Linked DNA regions of Homo sapiens. The protein of the gene in region 2 purifies or fractionates together with the protein of the main gene of each other region. This does not show direct contact. Each region holds a gene or a part of one and is shown on either strand. Other genes may lie near its edges.

Region 1 (3,747 bases), on a different chromosome or scaffold from region 2:
GGAGGTTCATGCGTTAGCATTTTTAACAACCGCGATGTTGCAAATGTTGTACCAGATTACTATTACAACAGTACAATCATCTGCTCATCAACATCTGGGTGGTTTTCTGGTTTTTTCCTTTGTTCTTTTTTTTTCTTGAGACGGAGTCTCGCTCTGTTGCCCAGGCTGGAGTGCAGTGGCATGATCTGGGCTCACTGCAAACTCCGCCTCCCGGGTTCATGCCATTCTCCTGCCTCAGCCTCCCGAGTAGCTGGGACTACAGGCGCCCGCCACCACGCCCGGCTAATTTTTTGTATTTTTAGTAGAGACGGGGTTTCACTGTGTTAGCCAGCATGGTCTCGATCTCCTGACCTCGCGATCTGCCCGCCTCGACCTCCCAAAGTGCTGGGATTACAGGCATGAGCCACCGTGCCCGGCTCCTTTGTTCTTTTAGTTATGACTACTAACAGACCTGCTATGTCCTTGTTCATGTCTCATGCCCACGGGCAGATGACACCCCAGTCCGGTGGCCCACCTGTACCACTGGGCATCAGAATCCCCTGAGAGCTCTTCATGGACCACAGGGCCCTGGGACCTCACTCCCAGTCACTGGTGCGGCCACTCTGGGGCAGAGCCCAGGAAGGCACATTGCTAACAACCCCTAGTGATACTGAGGCTGCTTGCCCGGGTCCCACTTGGAGAACCCTGTCGAGGGTGGCACTGCTGGTCACAGGGCACTTCTTTTAACTAACATTGTTTTCCAAAGAGGCTGTGACCAACAGAGTTTACTGTTCATGAAACTCAGATCGCAGACAGGCACGTGTCTGTCACAGCCGGTGCCGGCCGCTCCTTTCCATGGACAGTAACGTCCATGCAGGCTTATGTTCATCAGCTGAGAAAAGGGCACTTGCTGGGTGGGACCTTGTCTTATCGACACATAGAGTCTGCAGAAGGTGCCAACTGGTGTCGCAGGGCTGCTCCTGACACGACCCAAAATCACCAGGGTTGAATTCACATTCCTCTTACGTAACCATAACAAGTTGCTGGGACTACAGGCACGCACCACGGTGCCCTGTTAATTTTTTTGTAGAGACAGGGGTCTTGCTTTGTTGCCCAGGCTGGTCTCAAACTCCTGGAGGAGGTGGTCCTCCCACCTTGGACTCCCAAAGTGCTAGGATTACAGGTGTGAGCCACAGTGCCAGGCCTGTGGTACCTCTTCCAAGGACACTAATCCTATCAGATCAGGACCCCACCCTTATAATCTCATTTAACCTTAATTACTTCTCTAAAGGCCCTTTCTGCAAACACAGTCACATTGGGGATTAAGGCTTCACATACAAATGTTAGGGGGACAGAACTCGGTCCATAGCATGGAGTCGCACAGGTTTTGTCCTTTTGCGATTGGCTTGCTTTACTTAGTATGTTTCCAAGGTTCACCCATGTTGTGGCATGGGTCTGAACTTCACTCTTCTTGATGACTGACTCACACTCCACTGCATGGACAGCCAGCATTTTGTCTGTTCCTCAGTTTGTGGACATCTCGCCCCCTTGTTTCCACCTTGGGGATATGGAGGAAGATGGGATGAGCGAAGCCCTGTGATCCCCAGGACCAGCCACGTCGTTGGCAAGGGTCAGCGCAGGATGAAACCGCCGGCCCCTGGTCTCCGGCCGGGCCCTCCGTCTCTAGAGCAGCTCGCACCGCTGCAGCCCCTGGACGCCCCGGGCTGTGGACGCGCCCGTGGGACACCGCGCTGAGCAGGACACGCGACAGGTCCCCTCACTGGCGCTGCTCGCGTTGAACCGCGCGGGGAGCCAGGCAGCCCACGGGAAAGGTAAGAATTGTTAGGCTTTTAATCTAAAGTCGATACCTCAAAAAATAATTCCGGAGGTAAGCATTTAATATCAACATTCAATAAAGCAGGAAGTATCAGCCCGACGAAGACCGCCTTAAGTTTTCCACTTTGATGAACTCGATCATCCCCGGGGATGAAGAACCCGCCGGCCCAGCCGGAGCCCCGTCACGTGACCCGGCGGCCGCGGGGAGCTCTGTGCGCAGGCGCGGATCCGCACGCCCGCCGCCTGAGAAGCGAACTCCCCGTGGCGCCTGCGCTGTAGCGGGGGTTCGGCTGGCTCGCGCGGGTCCGGGCGCGCGCTGCGGGGGCGGAACCGCGCGGAGGCCGGAAGGAAGCTGGAGGGGGCGGGGCGAGGGAGGGAAGCCCGCCGGCCGTAGGACTACCGTCGCGGCCTGATGACGTCGCACAATGGCCGGCCCCCGCGGGTAGTGGAGCCCGTTTGTTCCGCCCGTGTCGAGCCTGGAGCCAGAACCTGTGAAGAGCGGAAGGGCCAAGGGACGTCTTCTCCACGCCGCTCCGACTCCAGGGGAGCCGTGGCCTCCTCTCCGCCCTAGCGCTGAGGTTAGCTGGGGCCGGGAGGGCGGCGGGAGGCCGGGCCGGCGGCGGCGGGAGGAGGAGGCCGCCGAGGCGGCGGCGGCGGCCGCGGGAGGGAGGCCCGGGAGCCCGGCGCGCCTCCGGCCGTGCGGACCCACCGGCCGAAGCGTGGCCCTCGGGCCCAGGGAAGGGGACCTTGAGACAGGCACCACCCCGAGTTCCGTCCGTAAGCCGGCCCCGCGGTCCTGGGGCGCCCTGGGCGCCCGAGCTCCTCGCGCGCTGCCTCCGCGCCCCGCGGCAGAGTTTATTTTCCTGAAGCTGTCATTTCTCTTCCGGGCCACTCGCGTGGCACATGTGTGCCGCCGGCTAAGGGGCGGTGAGAGGCGCCCAGATTCACCTCCAGAGTAGGTCATCCCGGGCTGCTGCTGGGCTCTTCGGAGAACTTTGAGCTCTTTATGAACCTCCTGGAACTTGCTCCGCAGCTTCAAAGTGTGCACAGGTTGGGCGCAGTGATTGCCCCAAGACGCGCGCCGGTCTCTTAGGAGTATGTAACTTCCTTGCCCCTTGGATTAGGAGATCAGAGGTGCTGGGTCCTTTATATAGACCAACTGCAGCTATAATGCTGGAAGAACTGAAACTTAACAGCCTTACTCCTGCCAAACATTTTTCCTGAATACTTTATGACAACTGAGTTTGCCGGGTAGAGTGGCCGTTTTAAATGAGCTTTGTTCGAACAACGCTAACTCATTTGCAAGAGTAGGTCATTCTTCAGACCCATTTGGGAAAATGGAAGAAGAGAGTGTTTGGCATCTGAAGTACCGTTTGGGGTGTAGCAAGGTGCTCATCATGTCTCCTGTTAGACTCACCTCCAGCCTGTTGTCTGTAGAGTAGTCCTTTCCCGTTCAGTAGTTGGGATTATCCGGGTGAGGTTTGACCTCGGCTGAATCCCGCTTCCCAGCTTTGGGAGGAGAGTCTTTTCCTGATAATTTTACTATCTAAGGGCAGTATGGAGCCCAGCCAGCCCTGGAACCAGTCAAATGTGTCCCAAAGCCGGAAACTCCTCTCCCGTTGTAGGTGGGACATGCTGAAATATTGTAAGAAAGCTTTGTGGAGTCACTCCAGAAAGCAAACAGGTAAGTTAACCTATGGCCTACATCGTGTTTACAGAGATTTGTATTTTGTCACAGCTACAGAGCATCTCAAGGTGAGTACCTCTTTATCAAGGAGTTTAGTGGTCACGCTTGGTCACTTTGCACGTGGGGTCTGTCACCAACCTTGATAACGTTCATTTAGATATTTTAAGTCCATGAGGTTATGAGTCAGAATTTTAACCAGATGTACCAGAACTTAGGCATTCAAATAGGTACTGCTCTGTTGAAAG
Region 2 (3,747 bases):
ATGTTAAGACTTTTTTTTTTTTTTTTTTTTTTTTGAGAGGGAGTCTTCCTCTGTTGCCCAGGTTGGAGTGCAGTGGTGCCATCCTGGCTCACTGCAACTTCAGCCTCCCGGGTTCAAGCAATTCTCCTGCTTCAGCCTCCTGAGTAGCTGGGATTACAGGTGCCTGCCACAATGCCTGGCTAATTTTTGTATTTATAGTAAAGACGAGGTTTCACCATGTGGGCCAGGCTGGTCTCAAACTCCTGACCTCAAGTGATCCGCCCACCTTGGCCTCTCAAAGTGCTGGGATTACAGGCGTGAGCCACCGCGCCTGGCGATGACATTCTTATAATTCTTTATCTCAGAACACCAAGAACAGCATGAATTATACACTAGACTTGAGTGACTGAATGAATGAATGAGTAAATGTTGGGAAAAGACACTGGGTTGGGGCAGGGTCAAGTCTGCACGCTCGAAAATTTCACAGGCAAGCGAGGAACGTTTTCTGTCCAGTCATCCATCCATCCTCATTGCCACCTCCACCACCCATGGAGAATGCAGGGACATTTTGTAAATGAGAAAAGACAATCATCCTCACTTGGGATCAGACTATGAGGGAAACAGTGTACATTCCTTCCTCCTTTGTGTTCCTCTTCTGGGGAAGGGTAGAGTGCTGAGACGGCTGAGCTGAGGAGGAAGGCAGACTGAAAACCTGGGTATGGCTTTAAATTCCCAAATTCATTAAATTTCCCATATACTAACTGGGTATGACGCACACATCTCCTAGCAAGAGGTCCAAAAGAAGCCTATGAATGCTCTTGTTTCCTTTCAACGACCAGAAAGGAGAGCTATGAACACTGGCACCTTGAAATTTATTTCCAACCCTCTAGAAACTTCAAAAGATACAACTCACTTATTTATTGAGATTATTATTACTACTAACAATAATAGGAAAGCACCAGCACACTTAAATAGTATCTATTCTCAAGGTATTTTTCTTATTTTGTTCAGTTTAAGTAGAAAATCATTCCATTGTCCTCCCCTACTTGCTAAACAGGAATACTGGATTTACTATCAGAAAAGTACCTGGAGTCTTAGAGAAGTATCCCAGAACTGGAGCTCCCAGGTCCTGATCAAAGTCTCAACTGTGCCATCAAGCACTTGTAGAACTTTAAAGAGGACCAAACTTATAGATCTCCAAGATCTCAGTTTCCTTACCTGTAAAATGGGGGCATGAGCCTTTGCCACCCCAGTCCTTCCTTGCTGATCAAAGGTAGGTTCCTGGGCAAAGTAATAAGCAATTAGTTAACCCTCTTTCTCTAGGGAAAAAACGTTTCATGCGTGCCCCAAGAGCAGGACAGGTTTGGGCTCCCCCAACGCGTCACGGGCTGCCCAAGTGTAAGCACCAGAGAACCAGACACACGAACGGTTCTCTAGGAGCGGGATCTCCCGGTCTCCGCCACAGACCCGGGGGTCCCCTGCTCCTGCACTGAAGACGCGCGCGGCCTCCGTTGCTTATCCAGATCCCCGGCCAGAACTCTGCCCCGGCACCGAACACCGGGCACCCATACCCCGGGGCCCAAGCTGCTTCTGCCCTCCTCTACTTGCCTTTATTAAGTCTTAACGTGGGAGAGAAGCCGTGATGTACCCATCTACACGGGTGTCTCTGGGGTTTCTAAACCGGAGTAGCTTCTCAGTCCCTGACCCTCGATTTTCTGCCCCTCTTCCTTCAAGCACAGCTCGTCTTGCCCTGTCCGCTTCTGGCTCAGTCCTCCTGAGAGTTCATGTCACTTAACGGAGCCTGTGAGAGTGGACCGGGATGGCCAAAACACTCAGTCCACACAAACAATGGCCGCAGCCCGGCTGGACCGAAACGGAAGTCCCAGGTCTTGGAGTAGACACTCGCAGTGTTTCCATGGATACGGGAGGGGCGGGGCGGGAAGAGAGAGCGCGGGAAAACGTGACTCCTGATTGGCCAGAAGTATCCCGCGCCTCCCGACCTTTGGCCGCTGGCATTCCTGCGCGGGCGGGAGCTGCGGGCGCTCGGGGGATAAGGCGAGGACGCACCAGCATTAATGGAATAGGAGAACTCCCGAAGCTTTTAGGGCCCTGGGAAAGGGGGCGTGGCTGGAAACGGAGCTACTGGCTTCGGAGAATTCTGTGACCCTCACCACCGCGACGACCCCGAGGAAACGCTGTCAGGTCGCCTTTGGTTGGCAAGGCGTGGTTGTCCTCGCTGTCCCGCGCCTTGGCGGAATGGGCACCTCACTAGCCCTGGCACTAGCTAGCATCGCTCTAAACTCAAGGTTAGAGGTTTTCAAATTCCGTCCTATTGTTGCCAGACACCCTCTTCGTTCCTGGTCCAGTGAGGCTTTCCTCCCTCCCGCCTTCTTGCCAAATCCCAGGCTCCTCTGGAGACTCCAGGCAGAGAAGGGAAACGCACAGTGGAGCTGAAATGAAGCCATGAGAAGGAGCCCCTCCTCAGTGTCCTGGGACCACAGAGAGTTGCAAGAGCCTGTTCTATTATTTAGCTGAGTGTGTTATATTAGGAAAATACTTTCGCATCTTTGGGCCCTGTCCTTCAAACTTGGGCTGGATCAGTAATATTCAAACATTTTATTAGGCAAGGAACTTTTGGTAGGATAGTCATTACAAGCAAGGGACTCCTTGGATTCAAATCTGACAACACCACTTACGAGATCTTGGCTGGATTACCTAACCTTTAAGCATCAGCTTAATAGGCGTAATATTGATAGCCAATAATAATAGTAACTATGTAACAGACTTGTTAGATTGAAATGAGTTAGTGTAGTTAAAATGCTTAAACCAGCCCCTTGCACATAGGAAGTAGTCTTGTGAACTATATATTTACAGTTTGGTGTTTAGCAGGGGTGGGTGGCCCAGCGCCTATCTGCTTGAGTTCACCACACAATAAGCTCTTGCATTTTTTATGACTCTGGAGACCACATTTTGAAAATTACTGGGCGTGGGCCTTCCCTGGTTTGAACATTCAGAGAGCATAGCATAGCATTTTAAAAATGTGGGCTTTGTTGTCTGACGGAACTGACATTAAGAGCTGTCAATCATTGTTATCCACTAGGTGGTGGTAAGCAAGTTGTTTAACCGCTCACCCTTAAGTATTTTCACCTGTAAATTGCAATGTATTTATTTATTTATTTTTTATTATACTGTAAGTTTTAGGGTACATGTGCACAACGTCCAGGTCAGGTTTGTTACCTATGTATACATGTGCCATGTTGGTGTGCTGCACCCATTAAATCTGTCTCTGCATTCAGTAATTCAACTATCAATTGCGGCTATTTAAATACATTAAAAAGCAATGTATTTAAATAGCCGCAATTGATAGTTGAATTACTGAATGCAGAGACATTGACCGGTAAGAACGAACACTGGAAGTGGGCTGTTCTGCCACACTGCTTCCAACCTGAGAATATTACCTGAACCTCATTGAACTAACCAAAATTAAAAGAAAAAAAAAAAGCTAAGAGGATCCAGTTTTCAGAGAAACAAAATGTGTATCTGAAGGAATATACCTGCTAAAGGGCAGAGGCCAATATGAATAACAAAGAGCACCAAGTATAGCATACGCAAGACTTTTAGGAATGAATTCTACCCAGTTACAGTTTGGGGTTTAGCAGGGGTGCCCGGCCTAGAGCCTATCTGCCTCCGTCCACCACACAGTGAGCATCTGCATTTTTTATGACTCTGGAAGCTACATTTTGAAAATTATTGGTCATGGACCCTCCC

What was found.
Region 1: the proteins of ZNF214 (region 2) and ZC3H18 purify together in Homo sapiens (affinity purification with mass spectrometry; 2 studies listed by BioGRID and IntAct, with this or other methods). This does not show direct contact.

The regions. Positions count from the first base shown.
Region 1 is NC_000016.10:88,568,174-88,571,920, forward strand, and holds the start of ZC3H18 (zinc finger CCCH domain-containing protein 18), read left to right. Parts: upstream 1-2,229; 5' UTR 2,230-2,393; intron 2,394-3,747.
Region 2 is NC_000011.10:7,018,486-7,022,232, forward strand, and holds the start of ZNF214 (zinc finger protein 214), read right to left. Parts: upstream 1,862-3,747; 5' UTR 1,588-1,861; intron 1,266-1,587; exon of another isoform or gene 1,215-1,265; coding exon of another isoform or gene 1,198-1,214; intron 1-1,197. UniProt on the Homo sapiens protein: May be involved in transcriptional regulation.